7 linked regions of the Homo sapiens genome follow. The protein of the gene in region 1 purifies or fractionates together with the protein of each later gene. This does not show direct contact. Each region holds a gene or a part of one and is shown in the gene's direction. Other genes may lie near its edges.

Region 1 (3,500 bases):
TAGACGGTGGTAGTGTGTTAGTGCTGGCTTCCTGTTTTGATGATTGTATTGTGGGGATGTAGGAGAAAGTCCTTATTTGTAGGAAATACACGCTAAAGTATTCAGGGTATTGGAACGTCTGGTCAGCAACTTACTGTCACCTAGGTTGGGAAAAACGCTTTGTGTTGTACAACAGGTTTTCCGTAAATTTTTGATTGTTTCTAAATTTAAAAATTAAAAAAAAATTATTATACCTCTTATCCTTGCCAGTGTTCTAACTGAATCAGGTGAACACGGCATGAATGTGCCCTTAGCACTAATATGTTAAAAGTAGAACACCCAAGAGAGGACAGGGTTCATTTCTTGGTAGACATCTCTTAAGACTCCTTTCATTGTTAGAAAATATCTGTGATGTTTGATCATTCTAAAAACAACCAAAACAACATGGGTACTTAAAAGGGTTTGGGGAGTACAGGCCATTTATTTCAGAAACCAGGGAAAATTGCTTGTGTTTACACAGCTGTTTTGCATTGTGGATCTTTCTTGTTTGAGGAACAGATATGTTTAAGGTGGGATAAATTTACTAGGTTTTAATCTGACTTTGGTTCGAGGAAACAGTTGCCATTAACTGAAGTTGTTTAGAAAGGAGACCCACCTTTCTTCCTGTGAGGGTGAACTCGCATTTCTCCTGGGGGCTCTAAGGCACTTGCAGCAAATCGATGATAAGGGTCTGATTATTTTCATGAAAGTATCTTAGAAGTGGCTAGTGTACTTAGACCAAAAAAATTAGACCATAAACGCATTGTCAGTAACAGTGGCTGGTTCCAAAACACACCATGCCTGAGAGTTGTGGAGAGTGTCTGGGCTTCGTAGGCCATTTCTCTGTGGAGCCCATAGCTTTTCAGAGACTTGCAGGAAAACAGAGTAACCCCTTCGTGGGATGCTACACATAGGCAAAGAGCTGGAGGGGAAGCCCCACCTTGGCCACCAGGAACTTAATGCAGGGCTGGAAAGCCAGAACCCTGGGGGGCAGTTCCACGCTCAGCTGGGTGGCAGTCCAGATTCCTCATAAAGAGATTGGAGCCTGAACCCCAGGCATGTGATCCAGCCAGCCACCGGACAAGACGCATGTGAAGACGGCGCACTACCAGTGACTCTACCTGCTTCAAATGAACCTTCTCTTAGGATAGGGAGACTTGTGTCACCGTCAGTGGGCCCGTGTCCCCCTTCCCTTCTTTACTCAGCCTCTGTTGCCCAAGGGCCTCTGTCCAACTGTTGCCCTGGACCCCTTCCAGAGCTGGTGCACACCAGTGTGGCCATTGCCACTGTGGGAACTGCTTTCGTACTGTCTTCAGAGTGGTTTCTCCTCGTTTTTAGTCTGTAGTCAAGCTTCTGTTGCCAGGGAGAGGGAAGAGGACCTTCTCTCAATCCCAGCAGGCAGTGGGTTAGGGCTGGGACCAGCTGTTTCTTTCTCTCCCCTCCTAGTAGAGCAGTACTTGGTGTGTGTGGGTATTCTGTAAGTCGGGTGTTTGTAACTAGGGGCATGGCCCGAATGATAAAAAGGCAGACTGACCGTCCAGAGTGATGTGCACCTTGTTCTAACCGAGTGAGCCAGAGAAAAGACTGCAGGCCTCTCCACCTTGACCAGGACACTCTTCTTTGCATCTTCACTTCTTTCCCTGGGTAGAAATGCCTGCTTTTCATGGGGAAAAAAAAAGAGATACCTTTTTCTGGACCTGTGTGACATTCTCCCTGGAACTAGTGGGTTAAGTGAGTCATTGCTTGGGGAAGTGTCTATTTGTTTGCTTTTGTGTTTGTTGAGCATAATGTTGCTATGCCTGAAGAGTTGCAAAATTCTTCTAAGAATTAGGATGGCTGTTTTTATTGCCACCTTGTCTCATTATTTCCCATTAAATATAGACACAGGTTCAGAAGACTAAAGACCTGCTCAATAATGTGGCCTCTGATGAAGCTAATTTAGAAGCCAAAATCGAAAAGAGAAAATTAGAACTGGAAAGAAATCGGAAGCGACTAGAGACTCTGCAGAGTGTCAGGTAGATATGAACACTTGGAGAATGAGTAGAAAGATGTCCTGGAAAGTTCAAACAAACTGGGCGTGGTGGCTCATGTCTGAAATCTCAGCTACTCATGAAGCTGGGGCGGGGGGTTCTCTTGAGCCCAGGAGTTTGAGACCAGCCTGGGCAGCATAATGAAACCCCATCTCTAAAAATTTTTAAAAATTACCTCAGTATGGTGATACACACCTGTAGTCCCAGCTACTTGGGAGGCTGAGGCGGGAGGATTGCTTGAGCCCAGGAGGTTGAGGCTGCAGTGAGCTATGGTTGCATCACTGCACTCCAGCCTGAGCCACAGAACAAGGCCGAGTAACAGAACAAGGCCCTGACTCTAAAAGAAAAAAAAAGTTAGAACAAAGACTTAAGAGAATAGAATGTGATCTTAACTCTTCTCAAGCAATGAAAAAAAGCCTTACATAAGGGTATCTTCACCTCAAATGTACATGTGTTGCCTGTCATAACAAGCAGATGGCTAAACTCATTCTCTTTACTGCTTGCGGTATGTCTGGAAAACTGCTTAAAGCTTGAACTGCCCTTTAAGCTTTTATAGCTTCTTGGAACTCAAGGCAGAGTAAGTGAATCCAGACGGGGAAATCCAGACGTGGTCTCCTAAGATCTTGCCATAAATTAGGTAGAAACAGAAACATACTCCTGCCTGTTTGTTGGCATAGATTTTAGACTTTATTTAAACCTTGATCATTCCTCACCAGTCAGTAATTCATCTTTCTTCCTACGTTACCTCATTGGAAATATATTTCCCAGGAATACCGATGGAGAATAGTGGTGCCGGCTCTCTCTCTCTTCTCTTCCTCGTTCTGTGCCTCTTTCCCTCCCCCATGCTTCTGCTCTTTCTCCCTTTTCATTCACCCTTTATTTTTCTTTCTTCTTGGCTCCCTCCTCTTCCCAGCTGCCTACTCTGCTCGGATGTTTTGCCTTTTTGGATGTTGGTGGCTGGCTACACCCTGCCCACTGTCCCGAGGTCTGTGGGGAGGCAGCACCTGGAGGCAGCGACAGCAACCACAGGGAGCGCCCTGGCTCCTCCCTGCCCAGCGCAAGGCCAAGGCCCTTCCCCTCCTGAAACTGGCTCTTTACCTCTGGAGCCTCAGAGAGGGAAAAAAAAAAAAACAGAAGTCATTGCCGCCATATAGATTGATCTCCTTGACACATTCCACTTTTAAAGCATCAATTCATTTTTGTTAAGCTCCAAATCATTTTAACAGAAAAGTCTCTTTGTTTTGCTCTAGTTCAAAAGATTATAATTATTTCTGAGTTTATCTGCTTATATTTTTAAAAGAGTAGAATTTTCCCTTTAAGGTCAATAATAAGAAAAAAGAAAAAGTTCAGCAAACCAGTATAGATTTTTATGGTTTTTTTTGTTTTTGTTTTTTTTTTTTGAGTTGGAGTTTCGCTCTTGTTGCCGAGGCTGGAGTGCAATGGCGCGATCCC
Region 2 (3,500 bases), on another chromosome or scaffold:
GAGACATGGCAGCCTGTCAAGTAGGTATCTTACCTAGTGTCCGTAGAGCACCTGCCTCTTCAACCCTGACCTTATGACTTCACACATGGCCATCTGTAGTTATCGCTTATGGTGGTCCCTTCCCACGTTGTTTGTTTCTTTACAGGAATATCGCCAACAGTCTTCCCAATGTAGCTCTTCCAAAAGTTCCAAGTCTGCCTCTTAATCTTCCACAGATTCCTAACATTTCTACTGCTTCGTGGATGCCTTCTTTATATGAGTCCACGTGTGTATTCCTCACTTATTTCCTGGTGGTGTGTTAGCTGGTGCATGGCCTGGGCTGTGTTCTGCGCAGATGTGTTTAGACTGCATGGCATTTGTCATCGTTGGTTGAGGAATACTGTTTTTTTTTTTTTATTTGAGTTTTTAAGCTAGTAAGCTAAGCTTAGCATATCTGTGATGAATAATGTCAATTAAAAAGAAAAAACACGCTAGTTTAATGTAGTTCATATATAATCTGTGGGACAGGAATAATTTGGTGGCATTCTACCCTAAGTAAATCATTTGGTGACATTGTACCCTAAGTAAAATAATCAGAGTTCTCCTTATGTATACAAAGCATTTTGAGGATTCTTAGCTCCAGCTTTATTACTGCCCAGATGACTTATCTTGTGCAAGTAGAAAACCTTTGGAAGAATGGTTTCAAGAATATAATATTTTTCTATTTTTATCTTAGTCTCAACTTTTAAAAAACAGTACTGCATCATTGCAGGCCCTTTCATTGCCAAAACCAGGAAGTTCTTCTTTTGTTCTTTTATTATATAGTTGGTACATCTTGGTATTTTTAAATAGTCTTTATATCATCAAAAACCATATTTATTAACTTCACATCATGATGAGCTTGCCTATTGCAGAATCAGCAACTAAGAACCACTGAAGTGAACAGGAATGGGCTTTTAAATTGATCAGTTCTGAATTTAGATCTTAGCTTATTAATTGTAAATCCTTCTTAGCCTGAGTTTTTTCCTCAACTCTAAAACAATTATGACACCTAAATGAAAGATGTTTTTGTGATGATTTAAAAAAAAAAAACTGTATTGAGGCATATCCTAGGCTCTCAGTAAATTATTAGTACTATTGGCATATCCTAGGCACCCAGTAAATGATAATTACTACTACTCTACATTGTTGTTTTTGTTATTATTACTATCATCAGGCATCATCATTATAATTTATAATGGTATAGTTTTTAAAACTATGAGCCTCACAGCAATCAGAACCAAGTAATAGTACTAGTTTACAAATGGGAAAACTCGGGCAGTTACCTGCTTTGCCCAAGATCTCATATGAAATCAACTAGAAAGAATAATCATGAGAGGAAGAAAAATAGCTTCCATTTATTGAGATTTTACTGTTTCCAGTACAGTGCCAAGTTATTTATCTCATTTAATCTTTATAACAACCTCATATCATTATCCCCATTTTACAGTTAAGGAAACTAAGTCATAAAGAAACTAAGAAACCAAACTTACCCAATATCTCACAGCAAATAAGTGACAGAGGCAAAATTTGAACCCAGGTTCGTTTGACTACAAATTCCTCACTCCTATCATTAATTTGTTCTGCTGTCATAGAACGTTGTGTTTAAGAACTTGCTACTTTTCTACCTATCCCACCACCAACTGCAAATCCACACCCAGTCAGGTATGCACACAATCAAGAAAAGAAATAGGAAAAGACCAAGAAAGAGAATAACTTGCAAAGTAATTTGGCAATATTTCTCCAAGTTTAACATCATAACTGCATTCATAATACTCACTAGGATATTATGTTACATGTGAATTTTTTTTCTTACAGGCAAATGCTTTTGGTCATTAGAGTGTGTAAAGTGGTGTCTGTGTGTGCTCAGAAAATTGCCTACAAACTATAATGAACCTTTCTAAGTGTATGATTTTTTTGTTCTTTTTTACACTGTTTTATAATTTAACTCCTTTTCTTCCTAATTTCTCATCTATTTAACGCTTGATTTTAGCCAAGAACACTATCATGGGCATTATCCTGCGAAATTTATTTTTTTGTTAGTAATCTTTTATTAACTTTGGGATTTGTACAAACTCTGAATCCCTTATTGAGGGCCCTTTTTTAAAGTATGTTAATTTCAGGACAGGAATAATGACAAATTGGGGCTTTGTAAGTAAAGTGATTGTGCTTTCACCATTCTGGGGAAATTTAAAAATGTGTTTTACAAGTTGATCACCATTATCTTTACCTACCAAGGTTATCAACATTAGGTTCTTTGTCAGAGTGTCCAGAATTACTCATAATGTTATGATGTTATTGCCATTTGTTTTTTGAAGTTTGAAACATTAATAAAAAGAAACATTTATATTTAACATAAAGAATTAAAAATACAACTGCTGATTAAATAAGAAGAATATAAAAGCAACCATGGTTTTGAAGATACATCCCTGCCTACCAATGCATAAATCATGCAAGGATTGCTCATCGACATATGTATCTGTATATAAATCTTTATTCTGTTTTTTTTTCTCTAGAAATGAATGCCAGCAAGTTAAGTTTCCTGCTGGCATTTTTAGGAAATTATCTCAGAGTCTACTACTCACATTCGAATTCTTTAATCTGTTAATAATACCTTTAGGAATAGGCCACCAATTAGAAATAATTTTAAAATGAAAAAGCTCTGAATAAATTGCAGGTTATATGTACCAACTCCAGAGAAAGCCTACTCACATTTTTTTCATATATCTATCTAATTATAACAAACACTTGTTATCTTAATTACATTCCCAATTAAACACATTTATTGTCAAGAATCTTACCATAGAATCAAACAGAAGAAAAATGTAACCATATTCTCTATGAAGATTGCCATGTATTATTAGAAAATCTATTTTTAGTAGAATTCTGCCTTTACCATTAGAGATTTTGTTTTTATGATGTTTTTCCTTGTCATTGTGTTGTTAAAGAATATATACATTCCAAATAGTTACATTTCTCCAAAGTAAAAATATTATAAGAAGCAGATTTGCTTCTTTGCCAATTGTATTCAGTTATTCTTAAAACTCAGTTCCTCTAATCTACCAAGCTGTACACTGTGGATGTGAAGGGAGATTTTGTTTGTTTGTTTTCTCTTAATTGTATGATATATATGGCAAAAGGAGAAATAAAGGTAGTGTTTTTTTCAACACTTTCACTGTAGTATCAGAATGGTGTTGTCTAGTTCTCTTATTTAATGGTGCATTTGAGGCACTGAATATTACGGTGAAGAGATTTAAGTGAGTAAAGTGCTACGGGAGTGTTCAGTGCTTTGCTATGATTGGTCCCTAGAGAACTTAAGTCTGAGGGCATTTTGGCTAGACAAGGAGATCAGGAGGAATTACTGGCAGAATGAGAAGAGAAAAGCAGTGTAGGTTTGTGATAGAGCTTTGACGCTGAGGCCAGGGTGGAGGGCAGGAATAAGCTTTTCATTAGTCAAGAGCAAGAGGTGCCTTTTTTTCTAA
Region 3 (3,500 bases), on another chromosome or scaffold:
TCTTTTGTGAGAAAATTGCCCCAAATCCTCCTACTACAGAAAGTGTTGATTTTTCAAGCTAATTTTTCATTCTCCTCACTGACTAACAAAGTAATATCCAGGCTGGGCAACATAGGGAGACCTCATCTCTACAAAAAATTTAAAAAATTATCTGGGCATAGTGGTAAGCACCTGTAGTCCCAGCTACTCAGGAGGCTGAGATGGGAGGATCACTTGAGCCTTGGAGGTCAAGGCTGCAGTGAGCCGTGTTTGTGCCACTGTACTCCAGCCCAGGTGACAGGGTAAGACTCTGTCACACACACACACACACACACACACACACACACACACACACACACAAAGTAATATCCATTTCCCACATTTCTCATGAACTTTTAACTGCTGTTATTCCTATCAGTCATTTATGTTCCCACCTATTCTTTATTTAAAAAGAAACAAGACCAAAGAAGTGAGCCTCTTCTAAACTTGTCCTTTCTTCCACTCATATTTATCCTTTGTGTTTCTCAGAAATCTACAAAAAATTATAACCAAAGCAGCATAGGAAAGCCGACTGTTACATGGGAACATGCTCCCCACAACAGGGCTCTGCTGTTTAACCTCCCCCAGCCTCTGGCTGGGAAAGCAGAGGTCATTTCTGGTACATAAGACCCAGGTGCCTGTAGGAGAGATGCCGACAATGATTTCAGGCATATGAAACATTTACAACTTTATAGAATAAAATGTATATTCGACCTGCACAAGAATTGTTTAGGCAAAAAATACATAGAACTATTCAACTGTGATCACAGCATGCCTCACTTCTCTTGATCTCTGTCAAAACTTGCTTTAGCTTAAAATAGACTTTTTAGGGTCTGAGTCCTGGGACATGTTATGTATTTGGGTGTCTAGCCTTAACAATCTTTCCATCGGCCAGCAAATATTTGCAGCAACGAAGAAGAGTAGACTTAATCTCATTTTTGTCAAACTGGTAACAGAAGCTCTGAAGGGTGATTAGGGTGATGTAGGCCCAGGAGCCTGTGCTGTTTAAAGCAGCAAATTTGACTAATTGCTTTTTTTTCTATTGTATTCCTCACACAGACTTGATTCTTAGATCAAGAATTATCATTTTTGACTTTTTAAGTTTCAGGGACCATTTTTAAAATAACATTTTTAAGATGACCTACGCATAGGTCACTATATCACTAAGTCACAAACAGGGCCTGAGGCCCTTGCCACTCTCTCCAATCCTGTTTGAGGAGCTGGGTCCAATATCCAGAAACATGGATGCAGCTCCGACAGCCAGGAGCCAGCCTGGAAGAAGCTGTAACACGTCCTCTCAAGGTTTGAGATGGGAACAAAGTACATGTCATCATTCAAAATTTCCTAGCTATTTTGATGAAACTGTTTAATGCACATGTTTGAGTCTGTCTTAAGACTTTTCCCCCCTTTATTAGGAAATATTTCAAAGAAGCATGTAATGTCCCTGAGCCAGAAGAGAAGTTTAATATGGACAAATACACAGACCTGGTGACAGTCAGCAAACCAGTCATTTATATTTCAATTGAAGAAATCATCAGCACACACTCAGTAAGTGGGGATGGGGAGCCATCTTAGCAATGGACCCATGATTTAGGCATCTGTTATCTTGAAAATGCTTAATCTCTACAGGACTTATTGTACACATGTGCTAATACTCATATTCTTAACCCTAAAAATCTCGCAATTATTTATTCCATGACTCTTATACATTAATAAAACTCCTTCTCCCAAACAACAAAATTCTATTTTTACATAATTATTCCCTGACTCCTAGACATTAATAAAACTTCTCCCCAAAAAAGAAAGTGTACTTTTGGCATAATCCATTTACAAAGCCAGATTGTGACTGGAATGGTGGCATATGCCTGTAATCCCAACACTTTGGGAGACTGAGGCAGGAGGATCACTCAAGCCCACAAGTTTGAGACTAGCCCGGGCAACATAGTGAGACCCCTATCTCTACTAAAAATTTTTTAAAAACTAGCCGGGTTTGGTGGTACATGCCTGTAGTCACAGCTACTTAAGAGGCTGAGGTGGGAGATCACTTGAGCTCAGGAGTCTGAGGCTGCAGTGATCTATGATCGTGCCACTGCACTCCAGCCGGGGCAACAGAGCGAGACCCTACCTCAAAAAATAAATAAATAAATAATAAAAATAAAGCCAGATTGTAAATATGCAGTTTAAGCCCTGAGCCAGGACAGGCTATGGTGTTCTCATCCGCCAAAGCTATGCTATGTAGACCTACACCCTGTCTCTCCCCTCTTCCAGGAACCCTCTCAGCTTTTCCAGTAATTTTCTGGGGGAAATGAGAATATTCTTTTTATTCTAATGTTTTAACATAAAGTGGTAATAAACAGGCTACGCAACGAAAACAAGAAACTACCACCCAATAGTAGCCTTCTGCAAAGAATCACTTCCATTGTTCTGGAAACCCCCATTTCTCGGAAGCAGGCAGTTTTTCACATCATGTGCTGTGTTATGACATCTACATCTGGTTTGCATGCAGACATCACTGCCGTCAGCCATTAGCATGTATTAAGTATCTGTTGGGTGCAGGGCACTGTGCTCAGTGGCATGGGGAAGGAATTGGGAGGCTTTAGATGACTTTTCAAACATTAAAATTAAAAAAAAAAAAGCTAAGCATTGAGGGGTTTGCATTGTTTTCTTTTTAAGATCAATTGGAACTTATTTCATGAAAAAATCTTGGTTTTTAAAAGGTAACCATTTCAAGAATAGTTTCAGACCTTGTGAGTTGAAGCAAGGTCCTGGGGATATGTTAGCAATGCACCCTGGACCTCCCAAATTAGAACCTGCATTGTAACAAGATCCCAGAGGATTCAGATGCACATTCAAGTTCTAGATGCTTCAGTTAAGGATGCACCCAACTTTGGATTATACAGAGAACCAAAGGGAAAGCATAACAAATACACATTCTCAAAGGTTGTGCTCTAGCCCCCATCAAACCAGACATACTGACAAGTGGCAGGTTAGCTGCTTAAAATTTCAGTCTATTATTAAGCTCTTCTAAGAAACTAAAGCTTGAATGTAGGTTTGAAGGAAAGATTGAATCTAGTATTGATTTTCTTCTTTCAGGGTTGAAACAGGGAACTTCCCTGACATTTACATCAAGCTCTCAATACATACTGATTAAATGAATAGGCTATCCTTCTTTTCTCTATATATGAACACCCTAGATTACAAGGAAAACTGTCCAGCAATCTAGCAATGCATTACTTACAGAAATAATTATCTACTGGACAGACTCATTTATATTTGAGCAATGACCCATTTGTCTGTTTTTGTGGTACATTATCTGTCTTCAAAGAATATGTACATCTTGGGTGCACATTTGCTGAATGCAATATCCACATGCGAAAAAAATGGTGGGGAGTACTTGTTTAGAGTGAGAGATTCTTTCCCAAGGGTAGCAGAGAGAAAATGTTACTGTATTAATTTAGAAGTCTTAGAAGTCTTTAAGGAGA
Region 4 (3,500 bases), on another chromosome or scaffold:
TTTTTTTTTGAGACAGAGTCTTGCTTTGTCACCCAGGCTGGAGTGCAGTGGTGCGATCTTGGCTCACTGCAACCTCTGCCTTCCAGGTTCAAGTGATTCTTCTGCCTCAGCCTCCTGAGTAGCTGCGACTACAGGTGTGCACCACCACACCTGGCTAATTTTTGTATTTTCAGTAGAGATAGGGTTTCAACCATGTTGGCCAGGCTGGTCTTGAACTCCTGACCTCAGGTGATCCGCCTGCCTCGGCCTCCAAAAGTGCTGGGATTACAGGTGTGAGCCACCACGCCCAGCCCTAAAATCTCTTGTTCTACCTTTTCTTGTCATCCTTTCATTAAAAAAAAGGAAAACCATTTATGCTACATTTTAACATCAAAAAAATATTATGTTTTGGATTTTCTGCACCTCTGTCCTTCAGAGTCAGAGATAATTGAGAGTTAAGTACAATCAACCTTAAAGTTGCCTTGCAAGCCACCAGGAAAGGCAGATATTGGAGAGGCAGAAGCTAGCTTCAGGATCATGTCCCTATAGTCAGTAACACACCAGCACCTAGGACCCTGCCACCTCTGCTCTTCTCTGGCCACCTCGAACAAACTGTTTTCCTTTTCCCAGGGCCTATGACCCTGCAGACTATGAGCATTTGCCAGTTTCTGCTGAAATTAAGGAACTCTTCCAGTACATCAGTAGGTGAGTACTAGGACCTCCCACCATACCCCACTATCCCTACCTTGCCCCAAACCTTTCCTATCTCTAGTCTGAAACAGGGCCATTCCCCTTAGATTTTTTTTTAGCCTGAATAGTAAAGTAACTTTTTCTGACTGTCTCCACCTTCCCTTGGCAATATCTCCTAGGTACACACCTCAGTTGATTGACCTGGACCACAAACTGAAGCCTTTCATTCCTGATTTTATCCCAGCTGTCGGGGATATTGATGCATTCTTAAAGGTATAGTCAGTACATCCTGAAAATGACTCCTTAAGTGTTTCTTCTGATGCCCCTGTTACTCTTAACAGTTTCCCTAATTTCTTTGACTAGCATTGGCTAGTCATGTTCATTTCATTGGAGTTCTTAACCTTGCTCTCAACTCCAAATTACACTCATTGCTCTTAAGTAATACTTAATATCTCATTACACATTAACAGTTTGTCATGTATTTGCTTCCTAATTATCTATGACAACAGGTTCATATTTAAGCTGCTATGGATAATATTTTTTTTCTGGATAGTATTGCGTACAGCATGATAAGCATGCTTTTAATACTAGTAATAATGATGAACCAGAAGTGTTCTTCCTCTTAACTTATTGGAAACATTTTCCTTTCTGCTTTCTTACCTTTTTCTTAACCAGGTCCCACGTCCTGATGGAAAGCCTGACAACCTTGGCCTATTGGTATTGGATGAACCTTCTACAAAGCAGTCAGACCCTACGGTGCTCTCACTCTGGTTAACAGAGAATTCTAAGCAGCACAACATCACAGTAAGATACTAGCTTAGTATAGGCCCCAGCTGGAGAGGGCCAAGAGTGGAGGAGGCCTTGCTGGCACTCATACAGTTGACTTACTGCCTGTCAAAAGAGATGGGCCTGGGTGCGGTGGCTCACGCCTGTAATCCCAGCACTTTGGGAGGCCGAGGCGGGTGGATCATGAGGTCAGGAGATCGAGACCATCCTGGCTTAACATGGTGAAACCCCGTCTCTACTAAAAATACAAAAAAAAAAATTAGCAGGGTGTAGTGGCGGGCGCCTGTAGTCCCAGCTACTCAGGAGGCTGAGACAGGAGAATGGTGTGAACCCGGGAGGCGGAGCTTGCAGTGAGTCGAGATCATGCCACTGCACTCCAGCCTGGGCAACAGAGCTAGACTCCATCTCAAAAAAAAAAAAAAAAGAGATGGTTATTGCTTTGGGCCAGCTCTATTTTTAAATGACAGCTTTATTTATATATAACTTAAATACCAGCAAGTTTAGCCTTTTAAATTGTACAACTTATTAGTTTTAATATAATCACAGTTTTGTAGCCATCACCACTACCTAATTTAGAATATTTCATCACCTCAAAAAGAAACTTCATACCCATTACTATTCACTCCTCATTCTCCCACTTCCTCCTAGACCCTGGTAATTATTTCATTCCTTTGTTATGGCTGAATAATATCCACTGTATGGATTTACCAGATTTGCTTTATTCATTCTCTAGTTCTGTCCACTCTTATTAATAATGGTGCTTTGAATATTTGTATACAAGTTTTTGTGTAGGTATATATTGTTATTCTGTTGGGTATATACATAGGAGTAGAATTGCTGGGCCATATGGAAACTCTATGTTTAGCCATTTGAAGAACTACCAAACTGTTTTCCAAAGTGGCTGTACCATTTTACATTCCCACCAGCAATGAATGAGAGTTCCAGTTTCTCTACATCCTCATCAATACTTTTTGTTTGTATTTTTCATTCTAACCATCCTAGTAGGTGTGAAATGGTATTTCTTTTTTTTTTTTTTTGAGACAGTTTTACTCTTGTTGCCCAGGCTGGAGTGCAATGGCGTGATCTTGGCTCACCACAACCTCCACCTCCCGGGTTCAAGCGATTTTCCTGCCTCAGCCTCCCGAGTAGCTGGGATTACAGGCATGCACCACCACGCCCAGCTGATTTTGTATTTTTAGTAGAGTCAGGGTTTCTCCATGTTGGTCAGGCTGGTCTCGAACTCCTGACCTCAGGTGATCCACCCACCTCGGCCTCCCAAAGTGCTGGGATTATAGGTGTGAGCCACCAAGCCCAGCCTAAATGGTATTTCATTATGGTCAGTCCTGCCATTTTGACCTGCTGCCTTTCCATGGCTTCAGCAAATTATTTTTTTTTGAGACAGGGTCTCGCTCTGTTACCCAGGCTGGAGTGCAGTGGTGTGATTGGGGCTCACTGTAGCCTCGATCTGCAAGCAATCCTGCTACCTCAGCCTCCCAAGTAGCCGGGACAGACCACAGGTGTGTGCCATCATGCCTGGCTAGGTTTTTTTTTTTTTTAATTTTTATTTTATAGAGGTAGGGTCTCCCTATGTTGTCTAGGCTGACCTCAAGTGATCCTCCTGCCTCAGCCTCCCAAAGTGCTAGGACTGCAGGTGTGAGCCACTGCACTTGGCTTTTTTTTTTTTTAAAGACAGGATCTCGCTCTTGCCTAGGCTGGAGTGCAGTGGCACAGTCGTAGCTCACTGCAACCTCAAACGCCTGGGCTCAAGTGATCCTCTTGCCTCAGCCTCTCAAGTAGCTGAGACCACAGGCACACACCACCATGCCTGGCTAATTTTTAAATTTTTAGTACAGACAAGGTCTCACTATGTTGCCCAGGCTGGTCTTGAACTCCTAGCCTCAACTGATCCTCCCACCTCAGACTGCCAAAGTGCTAGGATTACAAGTGTGACCGCCATGCCTGGCCTGGCTGCAGCAGATTTTATCAGGGTTTTCTATCCCCTTCATTTGGCTACTGTTTCACGTGGCAGCAGCTGTCATCAGCAA
Region 5 (3,500 bases), on another chromosome or scaffold:
AGGTACATAGGAGTAAATATGTAATATTTAGCAGTAAATATTTCTTTGATGAATGAATCTTTTCCTTTGTTCATTACACAGATCCCTTCTAAGCTCCTCCCTAGACTTTTCCTCCTAAACTGTGGCTAGTTAAGCCTCATGTTGTTCTATCCCAATGACTGTTTACTCCATTTGCATGTGGCCCTTCCCCTTAACTGGAGCTCTAAGCAATGCTGTAGTTCAGTCTCAGCAGAATCCTCTCTAACTCTTGGTAGTTAAGCCATACCACTGGCTCATGATCATCCTTGTGGTCCCCAAAATGCTAATGCTCTGCAGCTTCCTTTTTATTTTTTATGTCTCCCCTAATGTCTTACTGAAAGTTACGTGTTTACTGGCTTCACACATTTTGTCTCTTTTCATTAAGACTAATATGTTCTGCAATATTAGTTTCTCTTCTCATTAGTATAAGAAGTTTCTCTTCTGATTAGTACTTTATGTAACTGTAACAAGATTCCTGTGTTAAGATTATTTTGTAGCCTACCATGATATTTAAAACTCTCTATTAATATTGCTAGTATGGGAATGAGTAGATATTTTAATTTTGGGGTTAAGGATAAATAATGTGGAATCATTTAGTCAGTCATAGAAGCAAAAATTTTGCTCCCTTTGTTTTTATTTTATTAACTCAACCAATAAAAACCCATTTTGTAAAAGCAAATGTCTCAAATTTTTGTAAACATCCTAACGACCTCAAATGTTTATACTTATATTTGACAAATTTGTATGTGTTTTTCTCCAGGAATGAGTTGGAACATTTGCAGTATAAGGTATTGCAGGAAAGAGAGAATTATCAACAGTCTTCTCAATCAAGCAAAGCAAAATCAGCAGTACCTTCCTTTGGTATAAATGATAAATTTACACTAAATAAAGATGATGCCAGTTACAGCCTTATCTTAGAGGTACAGACTGCAATAGATAATGTCTTAATACAGGTAAGCAAAATGTCTAATTTCTTAGTTTTATGACTGGATCTATTTTGCAAACCAGTCATATGTACTAATTATTATTGAACATTTTTAGTTTTAGACAGTAATTTTATTTTATTTTTATTTTTATTTTTATTTTTTTGAGACAGAGTTTTACTCTGTCACCTAGACTGGAGTGCAGTGGTGCGATCTCAGCTCACTGTAACCTCCGACTCCCAGGTTCAAGTGATTCTCCTGCCTCAGCCTCCCGAGTAGCTGGGACTACAGGTATGTGCCACCACACCTGGCTAATTTTGTATTTTTAGTAGAGACGGGGTTTCACCATGTTGGCCAGGCTGGTCTTGAACTCCTGACCTCTGGTGATCCACCCGCCTCGGCCTCACAAAGTGCTGGGATTGCAAGCGTGAACCACCCCACCCAGTCATAGACAGTAATTTTAAATGTTTATGGCCTTTTATTCTTCCTTTAGATAATTGGTTTGCTCACAGATTATTTGAATTATATTTTTACTTTTTATTTATGTACTTAACAAACAAAAGATGGGCTTCAGTTTTAAGAAGAGTTAGAAAAGACAGTAAGGTTTTTCTTCTTTGGCTACCCTCTGGGAGAATCTTAACAGAGATGTGACTTAGAAAACTACCATATTTAATGCCCTTGCTAGAACATTTTTTTTTAAAGCCCCAAACATTAAAGTACAGCTTGCTCATTAACCCAACAGTTTCTGGTAGGTCAACAGGCAAAGTAGAGAATACTAAAGGGTGAAATTTAGGGATAATAATATATGACTCCATTCATCAATGTATATATTTACTGACTTATTTAAATTAGAAGGTATTCAGGAAGTAGAAAAGAATAATAGGATGAATAGAAAACAAACAAAAGGTAGTAAACCAATCACAAAATGAGAACATAACAAATTGGAGGAAGAAAAGGTTTAAAAAGATGTAATGGAGAGATCAGATTATTAAAAAAAAAACCTAAAGGCAGAAAACTCTCTTAAGTAATGCTAGCTCACGGGCTGTTGCATTGAACAACTCTAGGAATGCCATTCACATAGGACAGTGCAACAGCTTTGTCCTACAAACTGCCTCTCCAGAGGAGACCAAAAATTATCTTCTTTCTGTGTTACAGGTAAAATTAAAACTGATAAAAATGAACTGATACAATCAGAATGGCCATGTGATTATTTATAGCTCATGGTAACATTTTTAGCACTTTATAAAAATAAGTGGGATGATTGGACTTTTAAGGGGGTGGTGAGAGATGTTATTCTGTGATTTTTATAATCCAAGTTAGAAAAAAGCAGGTGATTGTAAAATAACATTTATTCTTTATTATATTTATTTTCTGGAAGTATATACTATCAAGTATAAGTTAAGAGAATTCATACTCTCAAATTTAAAGATGAATATAAACTAGAACTAAGGAGAACTCTTAGAGAAAACATAATTTATGAACATTTTTAGGTTTTCCATCTCAACCTTCTTTTTTTTTAATATTGACTATAGAGTGATGTTCCAATAGATTTACTTGATGTGGATAAAAATTCTGCTGTTGTTAGCTTTAGCAGCTGTGATTCTGAGGTGAGTAAAAATATAAAAGAATTCTTCACATGCTTTCATTTCTATTATGCCATTTTGATTAAAGTCTATAGATGCTGCTAGGTTTTGATGTTTCTTTTTCAATTATTTCTTATGTAACCTTTCCTTCAAAATCTGTGTCGGTTCTCTTTCCCTGTCCTCAGTCGAGAAACCTGATGTCCTAGATTCCTTCTTTTCTGTGATCTGTTACAGGTTGATATCCCTTATGTGAAATGCTTGGGACCAAGAAGTATTTTGGATTTTGGATTTTTTTCAGGTTTTGGAATATTTGTTTTGTATTTACTGGTTCAGCACCCCAAATTTGAAAATCTGAAATCTGAAATGCTCCAATGAGCGTTTCCTTAAAGTATTATCTTGGCACTCAAAAAGTTTAGAGTTTTGGAACATTTTAGATACTCAGTTTGGGAATGTTCAGCCTATATATCCAATTAGTCACTAGTTTCTGTCAGTTCTACCTCCATGGCTTTCATACTTCCACTTGGCTTCATTCCTACCCCTGTTAACTTAGTCCAGGCCCTTATCATGTCTTGCTTGAACTACTTTATAAGTTTCTCTGCCTCTAGTCTTGCCTCTGACTTCTAGGATATGCTGTATGTACACTACCACCAGAGACGTCTTCCTTCCTAAAACACGAACATCACTGTATCTTTCTTTTCTCAAAACCTTTTCAATATTCCTGATTTCCTGCTAGATATAAATATAGATTCCTTATTGTGGCATAGAAAACTTTCCATGATTCAGCTCTTGATTACATCTCTAACTTCTCTCTCACCGGCTGCTACCACCCCTCCCATGCACATTATTTCTGCCAAACTGAAGTTCTTAAAATTCCTGAAAATGCTATATAGTTTCACACATCCCTGCATTGGAACATGATCTGTTGCTTCCCCCGCTCTTCCTGCCCTGCCCCACTTTTTCTAGGCTTGTTGAATGC
Region 6 (3,500 bases), on another chromosome or scaffold:
TCGGAACAATGCCAAATTCAGAAAAGCTCTACTTGCTCTGTGTTGTATGGTTGCGAACATTTGGAAGATTAGTTACACAAGACTATATTTTACCATAGGGTTTTTTGGAAACATACAGAGTAACTTCCATGTTGTTTCTGATCCCAGTGCTCTGTGTAGTTCCACTGTGCATGATAATCTCAGGCAGAGGGAAAAAGAAATATAGGGACAAAAACATACAGCCAGATTAACACTTTACTTACTTTGTTTACAATGTTAGTACAGACCTTGAAGATTGAAAAAAGCACGTCTAAAGAGCCAGTTGATTTTGAGCAATGGATTGAAAAAGGTATGTGTTTCACCAGCATTGTTCTGAGCATGAAGGAGTAGATAATATTCCTTTGATTCTGCATTTCTCATCTAGCTGCACTTTGGTGAAAAAAGATGACTTTAATGATCCTTGTGACACATTTAGGGTCTAGAAAGACCCAGGTTTGAATACAAAGCTGCTTCTTCATTTACTGGTTATATAAGTATTAACATGTGACTTAATTTTTCTCAGTTTCAGAATCCTTATTAGGAAAATGGTGATGATATCTATCATTCAAGGTTTTGGTGAACTAGTGTCTGGCATATAATAGACAATAAATATTAGTTTCTCATCTTCTTTCCTTTTGTCCTGATTAAGGGTACTATTTAAATATCACCAGCAGAATTGATAGCCTCTACTTAATTAAACACAGCATCTTGCCTTCATATGTCTATTTTCCCTTTCAAAATACCATGAAAATAATATTAAAGGAATAAAAAGAGGCATAAACCTACAAGGACAAAAGATTTAACAACCAGCAAACTAAAGCAAATGTGAGAGATCAGTGTATATTATGATAAAGAGAAAGCAGATTGAAGAGTAGTAACTTCTTTAGCTGAATGAACTGTGTTATAACCTAAGGTCTTGACAAGGAGCATGTCAATAAGAAGCAAGCCACTTTGCCACACAAAACCCCAGAAAGGCCTAGAGCTCAAAGGCAACAGGTGCCATGGGAAGTATGAATGAGACCTGGGTCAGAAAACAAGGATGATTAGTTGAACATCTATTTACAGAGTAATCAGACTCTAGGTACCTTCTTCCGTCCTACAAAACTAGGTGACCACTCCTTTATCCCACAGACCTCCACCACAACCCTCAAGAGACAACTGCAAATATAGAATGTTGAGGCTCAGGAGACCAGATATAGTAGGGAGTGAGTGAGACATGGAGTTGAAAATACGATACTAGTGGAAGCCTACATATTGAATAGTGGGAACACCAGCCTCCTTCCTGTGTTCTGGTATTAACTTCAGCAGCCAAGAATATACCCTCAGCTGGGAGACTGGAACATTCATCTTTGGAGAAACTAAATGGCCCTAGAAAAAAGACCTATGGATACTGACAAAGGCCAGCTCATTTCTGGTCACCTTATTTAAGTCCAGTAATCAATAAGTGTGGCTCATGCACACAGTTTTCAAATGATGCACAGTTTTCAAATGATCCACAAGTAACAAAAGAAAGATCACAAGACATTAATGAAGACCTCAAACCCTGAATATAATCAAGCTTTTAGCTCTAATTTCCAATCTATAAGAAATGTAGAGGATAGAGGAACAAATTAAGTGAAACCACGAATAGACAAGATGATAAAATCTAGAATGTGGGGCCTGGGCACAGTGGCTCATGCCTGTAATCCCAACACTTTGGGAGGCTGAGGGAGGAGGATTGCATGAGTCCAGGAGTTCAAGACTGGCCTAGGAAACATGGCAAGATGTTGTCTCTACAAAAAAAAATTAAAAATTAGCCAGGGATGGTGACATGTGCCTGTAATCGTAGCTACTTGGGAGGCTGAGATGGAAGGACCACTTGAGCCCAGGAGGTTGAGACTGCAATGAGCTGTGATCATGCCACTGCACTCCAGCCTGGGTGACAGAGCAAGACCCCATCTCTTTAAAAAAAAAAAAAAATCTAGAATGTGGGACATTGTACAGGACAACTGACCTGGTCTCTTCAGTAAGTCAAAGACATTAAAAAATGTGTGTAGGGGAGAGAAAGCAGTTGAAGGTTAAAAGAGACTTAATTCTGATTTTAATAAACCAATTAAAAAAGACAGGGACAATTGGGGAAATTTGAATAGGAATTGGGTTTCATATTATATTAAACCACTATTTTTAATGTTATGATGGTGGTATTATGGTTATATAAAGAATTATTATTTAGAAATGGATAATTAAGTATTTAGGGGAAGCTAGGCTCACGCCCATAATCCCAGCATTTTAGGAGGCTGAGGTGGGCGGATCGTTTGATCTCAGGAATTCAAGAAACTACCCTGGGCAACATGGAGAAATCTTGTCTCTACAAAAAATATACATATATATTTGCTAGGTGTGGTGGCATGCACCTGTAGTCCCAGCTGCTTGGGAGGCTGAGGAAGGAGGATCACTTGAGCCTCAGAGGTGAAGGTTGCCATGAGCTGAGATTGTGCCAGTACACTCCAATCTAGGCGACAGAGTGAGACCCTGTCTCAAAAGAACAAAAAAGTATTTAGAGATGAAATGTCAATAATGTCTTACACTTGCACTTGCTTTAACTTTTTTTTTTTTTTTTTTTTTGAGACTGGAGTGCAGTGGCGCAATCTCGGCTCACTGCAACTTCCGCTTCCCAGGTTCAAGTGATTCTCCTGCCTCAGCCTCCTGAGTAGCTGGAATTACAGGCGTGCACCACGTTGCCTGGCTAATTTTTGTATTTTTGGTAGAGACAGAGTTTTCACCATGTTGGCCAGGCTGGTCTCAAACTCCTGACCTCAAATCGTCCACCCACCTCAGCTTCCCATAGTGCTGGTATTATAGGAGTGAGCCACCACACCTGGCCTAAAATACTTTAGTGAAAAAAAAAATTGATAAATCCACTATGATGAAATGTTAGTAATTATAAAATCTAGCTTATGGGTATATGTGGGAGTTTTTTTATGTTCTCTCCTAAGTATGTTTGATATTTTTCTTTTTTCTTTTCTTTTTTTTTTTTTGAGACTGAGTCTCACTCTATTGCTCAGGCTGGAGTGCAGTGGCGTGATCTCGGCTCACTGCAAGCTCCACCTCCTGGGTTCACGACATTCTCCTGCTTCAGCCTCCCGAGTAACTGGGACTACAGGTGCCCGCCACCATGCCCAGCTAATTTTTTGTATTTTTTTTTTAGTAGAGATGGGGTTTCACCGTGTTAGCCAGGATGGTCTCAATCTCCTGACCTTGTGATCTGCCCGCCTCAGCCTCCCAAAATGCTGGGATTACAGGTGTGAGCCACCATGCCCAGCCGATATTTTTCAATTTTTCATAACTAAAAAAACTAAGCAAATGAAAAAGTTTATTATTAATTTCTGGTGATAGAGTTGTACAAGAAAGAAAATATCATTATAATGTATTATTTCAGGAGTAAATAACCTTTAGATAGACAGAGTAATGTAACCATCAAGTAGGATTTCAAATTTGAGAGG
Region 7 (3,500 bases), on another chromosome or scaffold:
TGCCCAGCGTGGCCCATCAGGGTGCTTCATGCATGGCTGTGTGCTTGCCATCCTTCCTGCCTGCCTACCCCCTGCTGCTTCGCTTCGTGGGGGCGTTTGAGCTTGGGCCCACCTGCCTGCCTCGCTTGTGGGCAGAGGACCCAGGCTGTGTGAGTTGTCCTGTCCCGGGGAGCAGCTGAGCTGGTCGGGGGTCTCGACCTGTGGGGCTCAGAGGACTCGGGGTCATTTCACTGGGCTGTGGCGATGCTGGGCTGTGGAGGTAGGCCTAGGGCTCCTGTAGGCCTCAGTGAGACTGGCGGCCGATGCCCAGTGTTCACCCTGCTGGCGGCAGTCAGGAACATGTTCACAAAGGCTTTACCTTCAAGTGGTCTAGAGGTGATCTGAGGTGGAGTAACAGGTCCAGATAGGCTACGTTCATAAAACAGCTTCAGCGGGGTTTAGGAACACTGTGCATTTACGGGACGCAGTGGGTCAGAGTGCTGCTGTCCGTGGGAGGTGGCCCCAGGGCAGGTCAGTGGGCACGTCCTGTGGTAAGTGGGACTGTGGATGTGGGCTCAGGCTGGACTCAGCAGCCCTGCTGGATACCAAGGCCTGCAAGGGCTGGCCCCCTGGTGAATTGTCCCGTGCCCTGTGTATCTATGAGTCCTGCAGAGATGACAAATCAGGGGACGGGGTCATGTCTAGTCACCGTCTGGGAAAATGCTCCAGGAGTGAACACATTTCAGGCTCTTGATGGATGTACCTCCAAACTCTTCTCTGGATGGGTGGGCCAGCTTGCATGCCTGTGCCGGCCTCTGCCCAGCGAGGTCAGGGCCAGGCCACACAGTCAGTCTGACTTTGGCAGAAGTTGAGAGGCAACACTTGTCTCTTGTTTCAGCTTGCCTTTCTTTGTGTACTTCTGAGAGCGAGCATTCTTTTCATGTTCTATCCGCTGGCCGTTCTTCTGCGGAATGTCTGTTCACGTCCTTTGCAGTCTGTTAATGAGGTTTCCAACCTTCCCTCATTTTTGTAATCTGTAAGAACTTTTTACAGACTAGCGATATAAATCCTTGTCAAATATTGCAAACACTTTTCTCATTTCATCTGGTTTTAATCTATCCTGGTTTTTAAAAAATGTGTCTGTGGAAGTTTAATTTTTATGTAGTCACATCTCAGTTTTTTTCCATTGCATTTATTCTCAGAATGCTTCTCCCTGCCCTGAGATTAGATAAGCAGTCATTTGTTCTTTCTTGAGTTATTTTGAGATTTCAGTTTTAACATTTTCTTCTATAATCCATGTGGCTGGGTTTTGGGATCTGGCTAACCCCCGCCATGCCAGTAGCCTGAGGGGCCCAGCCCCACTTGTTGAACAGCCGCTCTCCCCGCCCCACCCACCCTGCCTGCCTGCCCACCCGCCCTGGTCTCTCCAGGAATCATGTTCGTTCAGGAGGAGGCCCTGGCCAGCAGCCTCTCGTCCACTGACAGTCTGACTCCCGAGCACCAGCCCATTGCCCAGGGATGTTCTGATTCCTTGGAGTCCATCCCTGCGGGACAGGTAATGCCCTCTTCCCGCTTCTGGGGACCATACATCTGTGGGTGGACTCTTCTGCTTGGGGTTGTGTGCAGTAGGAAGTGGCCTAGCTGGAGCTGAGGCAGATGCTTCCAGGGTTTGGCGTCCTCTGCTTTGTGCCACGGTCTTTCTCTTGGACCTGTCTCTGGTTGAGTGTCTTCCTGACAAACACAGTGGTTAAGGGTTTATTTTCAGCCTCCCTCCTTCCCTTCCCCACCCACCTTGGTTGATGGGAACAGGCAGTTCTCTGTCACTGGGCCCAGGGCACGAGGGGGGCAGGTGGAGAGGGTGGCCCTTGACCCTGTGAGCAGGCTTCCCTGGGGAAGGCATTTCAAAAGACCCTCGTGCAGGGGCTTGTTTGGGTTTCTTCTCTGTTTCCTGGCACCCCTGGAGCCACTCGGCGCCTTTCCGCATGTCACCCTGGTGGTCTGGGAAACAGTCTCACTCTGGCGCCTCCTCTGTGGTTGTTACTGAGAGTTCTGGGGCCCCTTCCTTTGTCCTGAGGAAAGACAGGAGGAAAGCAAGGGTGCTTGCTGTGTGCTTCGCAAATGTGCTTGGTGCCTGGGCCTCCCTCCAGCCCCATCTCTGCAGCAGCACAAGGTTATGGCCTTGTGACACTGGGACAGTTTGCAGAGTCCTTGTCTGTCCTCAGTACTCCACAGTATTCTGCCATCACCCTTTCCAGGGTCACACAGCAAGAGATTCCCAAGCCCTAGGTATTCCCCAGTGCACAGAGACCATTGGGAGGGACTTGCCAGGGCTGTGTCCACTGCTGGCCAGTTAGGGTCGGACCAAATTTGTAGACTGTCTACCTGGACCCTTGCGTGGCACAAGGAGCAGTCAGATGCTGGATCCCTGGAGAGTGGCGAGAGGCTCTGGCCCTAGGTTGCGAGTGGGAATCCCAGCCCTGCTGTGTGCTGGTGGGATAACCAAGTGGGTCTCTGCCCTTGGGTCCCAGAGTGGGCCCCAGGGTCCCAGAGTGGGCTCCAGGGTACAGCGTGGGGATGGGGAGCCTCCTCAGGGCGGTGATGGAGGGCAGAATGCCCAGCTCAGGGTCTGGCAACCAGTAAATGGCTGGGGCTGGCTGCAGTAGGTGGGGACTGACTGTGTTTCTTTCTCCATCAGGCAGCTTCCGATGATTTAAGGGACGTGCCAGGAGCTGTTGGTGGTGCAAGGTAAGGAAGAGGTTGGAAAGGGACCTGGGCCTGGCCACACAGCCTTATGCACACACACTGCTGTGGGCCAGGGGTGGCCAGTCAGGTTTTTTTAAAAATCCGTTCACAGAAGGCCTATAGAACTATTTCTTCCTCTAAAGAGACACAGATGAGATGGACTTTTCAATCTGTTTCCAAATTCTAATACCTAAACTCTGCTCAGCACATGTTGCCCTACACCAGGGGTTGGCAAATCAAGGCCTGTGTGTGGCCCACAGCCTGGGAGCTAAGAATGACAGTTACATTCTTTTTTCTTTTTTTGAGACTGAGTCTCGCTCTGTCGCCCAGGCTGGAGTGCAGTGGCGTGTTCTTGGCTCACTGCAACCCCCGCCTCCCAGATTAATGCAATTTTCCTGTCTCAGCCTCAGCCTTCTGAGTAGCCCGGACCACAGGCGCACGCCACCACGCCCAACTAATTTTTTATATTTTTAGTAGAGACAGAGATTCACCATGTTGCCTAGCTGGTCTCGAACTCCTGAACTCCAGTGATCCACCAACCTCGGCCTCCTAAAGTACTGGAATTACAGGCATGAGCCACCGCGCCTGGCTAGAATAACAGTTACTTTTTTTTTCTTTGAGACTGAGTCTTGCTTTGTCACCCAGGCTGGAGTGCAGTGGCCCGATCTCAGCTCGCTGCAACCTCCGCCTCCCGGGTTCAAGCGATTCTTCTGCCTCAGCCACCCAAGGTGCCCGCCACCACACCTGGCTAATTTTTCTGTTTTTAGTAGGGACAGGAT

Evidence for each region.
Region 2: the proteins of CLUAP1 (region 1) and CADPS2 purify together in Homo sapiens (affinity purification with mass spectrometry, with the first as the bait; one large-scale study listed by BioGRID). This does not show direct contact.
Region 3: the proteins of CLUAP1 (region 1) and IQGAP2 purify together in Homo sapiens (affinity purification with mass spectrometry, with the first as the bait; one large-scale study listed by BioGRID). This does not show direct contact.
Region 4: the proteins of CLUAP1 (region 1) and IFT46 purify together in Homo sapiens (affinity purification with mass spectrometry; 3 studies listed by BioGRID and IntAct, with this or other methods). This does not show direct contact.
Region 5: the proteins of CLUAP1 (region 1) and BBS7 purify together in Homo sapiens (affinity purification with mass spectrometry; 2 studies listed by BioGRID and IntAct, with this or other methods). This does not show direct contact.
Region 6: the proteins of CLUAP1 (region 1) and IFT25 purify together in Homo sapiens (affinity purification with mass spectrometry; 2 studies listed by BioGRID and IntAct, with this or other methods). This does not show direct contact.
Region 7: the proteins of CLUAP1 (region 1) and NISCH purify together in Homo sapiens (affinity purification with mass spectrometry, with the first as the bait; one large-scale study listed by BioGRID). This does not show direct contact.

The regions. Positions count from the first base shown.
Region 1 is NC_000016.10:3,518,004-3,521,503, forward strand, and holds part of CLUAP1 (clusterin-associated protein 1), read left to right. Parts: intron 1-1,899; coding exon 1,900-2,033; intron 2,034-3,500. UniProt on the Homo sapiens protein: Required for cilia biogenesis. Appears to function within the multiple intraflagellar transport complex B (IFT-B). Key regulator of hedgehog signaling.
Region 2 is NC_000007.14:122,389,961-122,393,460, reverse strand, and holds part of CADPS2 (calcium-dependent secretion activator 2), read left to right. Parts: coding exon 1-20; intron 21-145; coding exon 146-265; intron 266-3,500. UniProt on the Homo sapiens protein: Calcium-binding protein involved in exocytosis of vesicles filled with neurotransmitters and neuropeptides. Probably acts upstream of fusion in the biogenesis or maintenance of mature secretory vesicles.
Region 3 is NC_000005.10:76,675,785-76,679,284, forward strand, and holds part of IQGAP2 (ras GTPase-activating-like protein IQGAP2), read left to right. Parts: intron 1-1,433; coding exon 1,434-1,566; intron 1,567-3,500. UniProt on the Homo sapiens protein: Binds to activated CDC42 and RAC1 but does not seem to stimulate their GTPase activity. Associates with calmodulin.
Region 4 is NC_000011.10:118,552,432-118,555,931, reverse strand, and holds part of IFT46 (intraflagellar transport protein 46 homolog), read left to right. Parts: intron 1-609; coding exon 610-684; intron 685-848; coding exon 849-942; intron 943-1,344; coding exon 1,345-1,473; intron 1,474-3,500. UniProt on the Homo sapiens protein: Forms part of a complex involved in intraflagellar transport (IFT), the bi-directional movement of particles required for the assembly, maintenance and functioning of primary cilia. May play a role in chondrocyte maturation and skeletogenesis.
Region 5 is NC_000004.12:121,842,975-121,846,474, reverse strand, and holds part of BBS7 (BBSome complex member BBS7), read left to right. Parts: intron 1-778; coding exon 779-971; intron 972-2,473; coding exon 2,474-2,548; intron 2,549-3,500.
Region 6 is NC_000001.11:53,925,200-53,928,699, reverse strand, and holds part of IFT25 (intraflagellar transport protein 25 homolog), read left to right. Parts: intron 1-259; coding exon 260-328; intron 329-3,500. UniProt on the Homo sapiens protein: Component of the IFT complex B required for sonic hedgehog/SHH signaling.
Region 7 is NC_000003.12:52,483,104-52,486,603, forward strand, and holds part of NISCH (nischarin), read left to right. Parts: intron 1-1,409; coding exon 1,410-1,534; intron 1,535-2,674; coding exon 2,675-2,724; intron 2,725-3,500. UniProt on the Homo sapiens protein: Acts either as the functional imidazoline-1 receptor (I1R) candidate or as a membrane-associated mediator of the I1R signaling.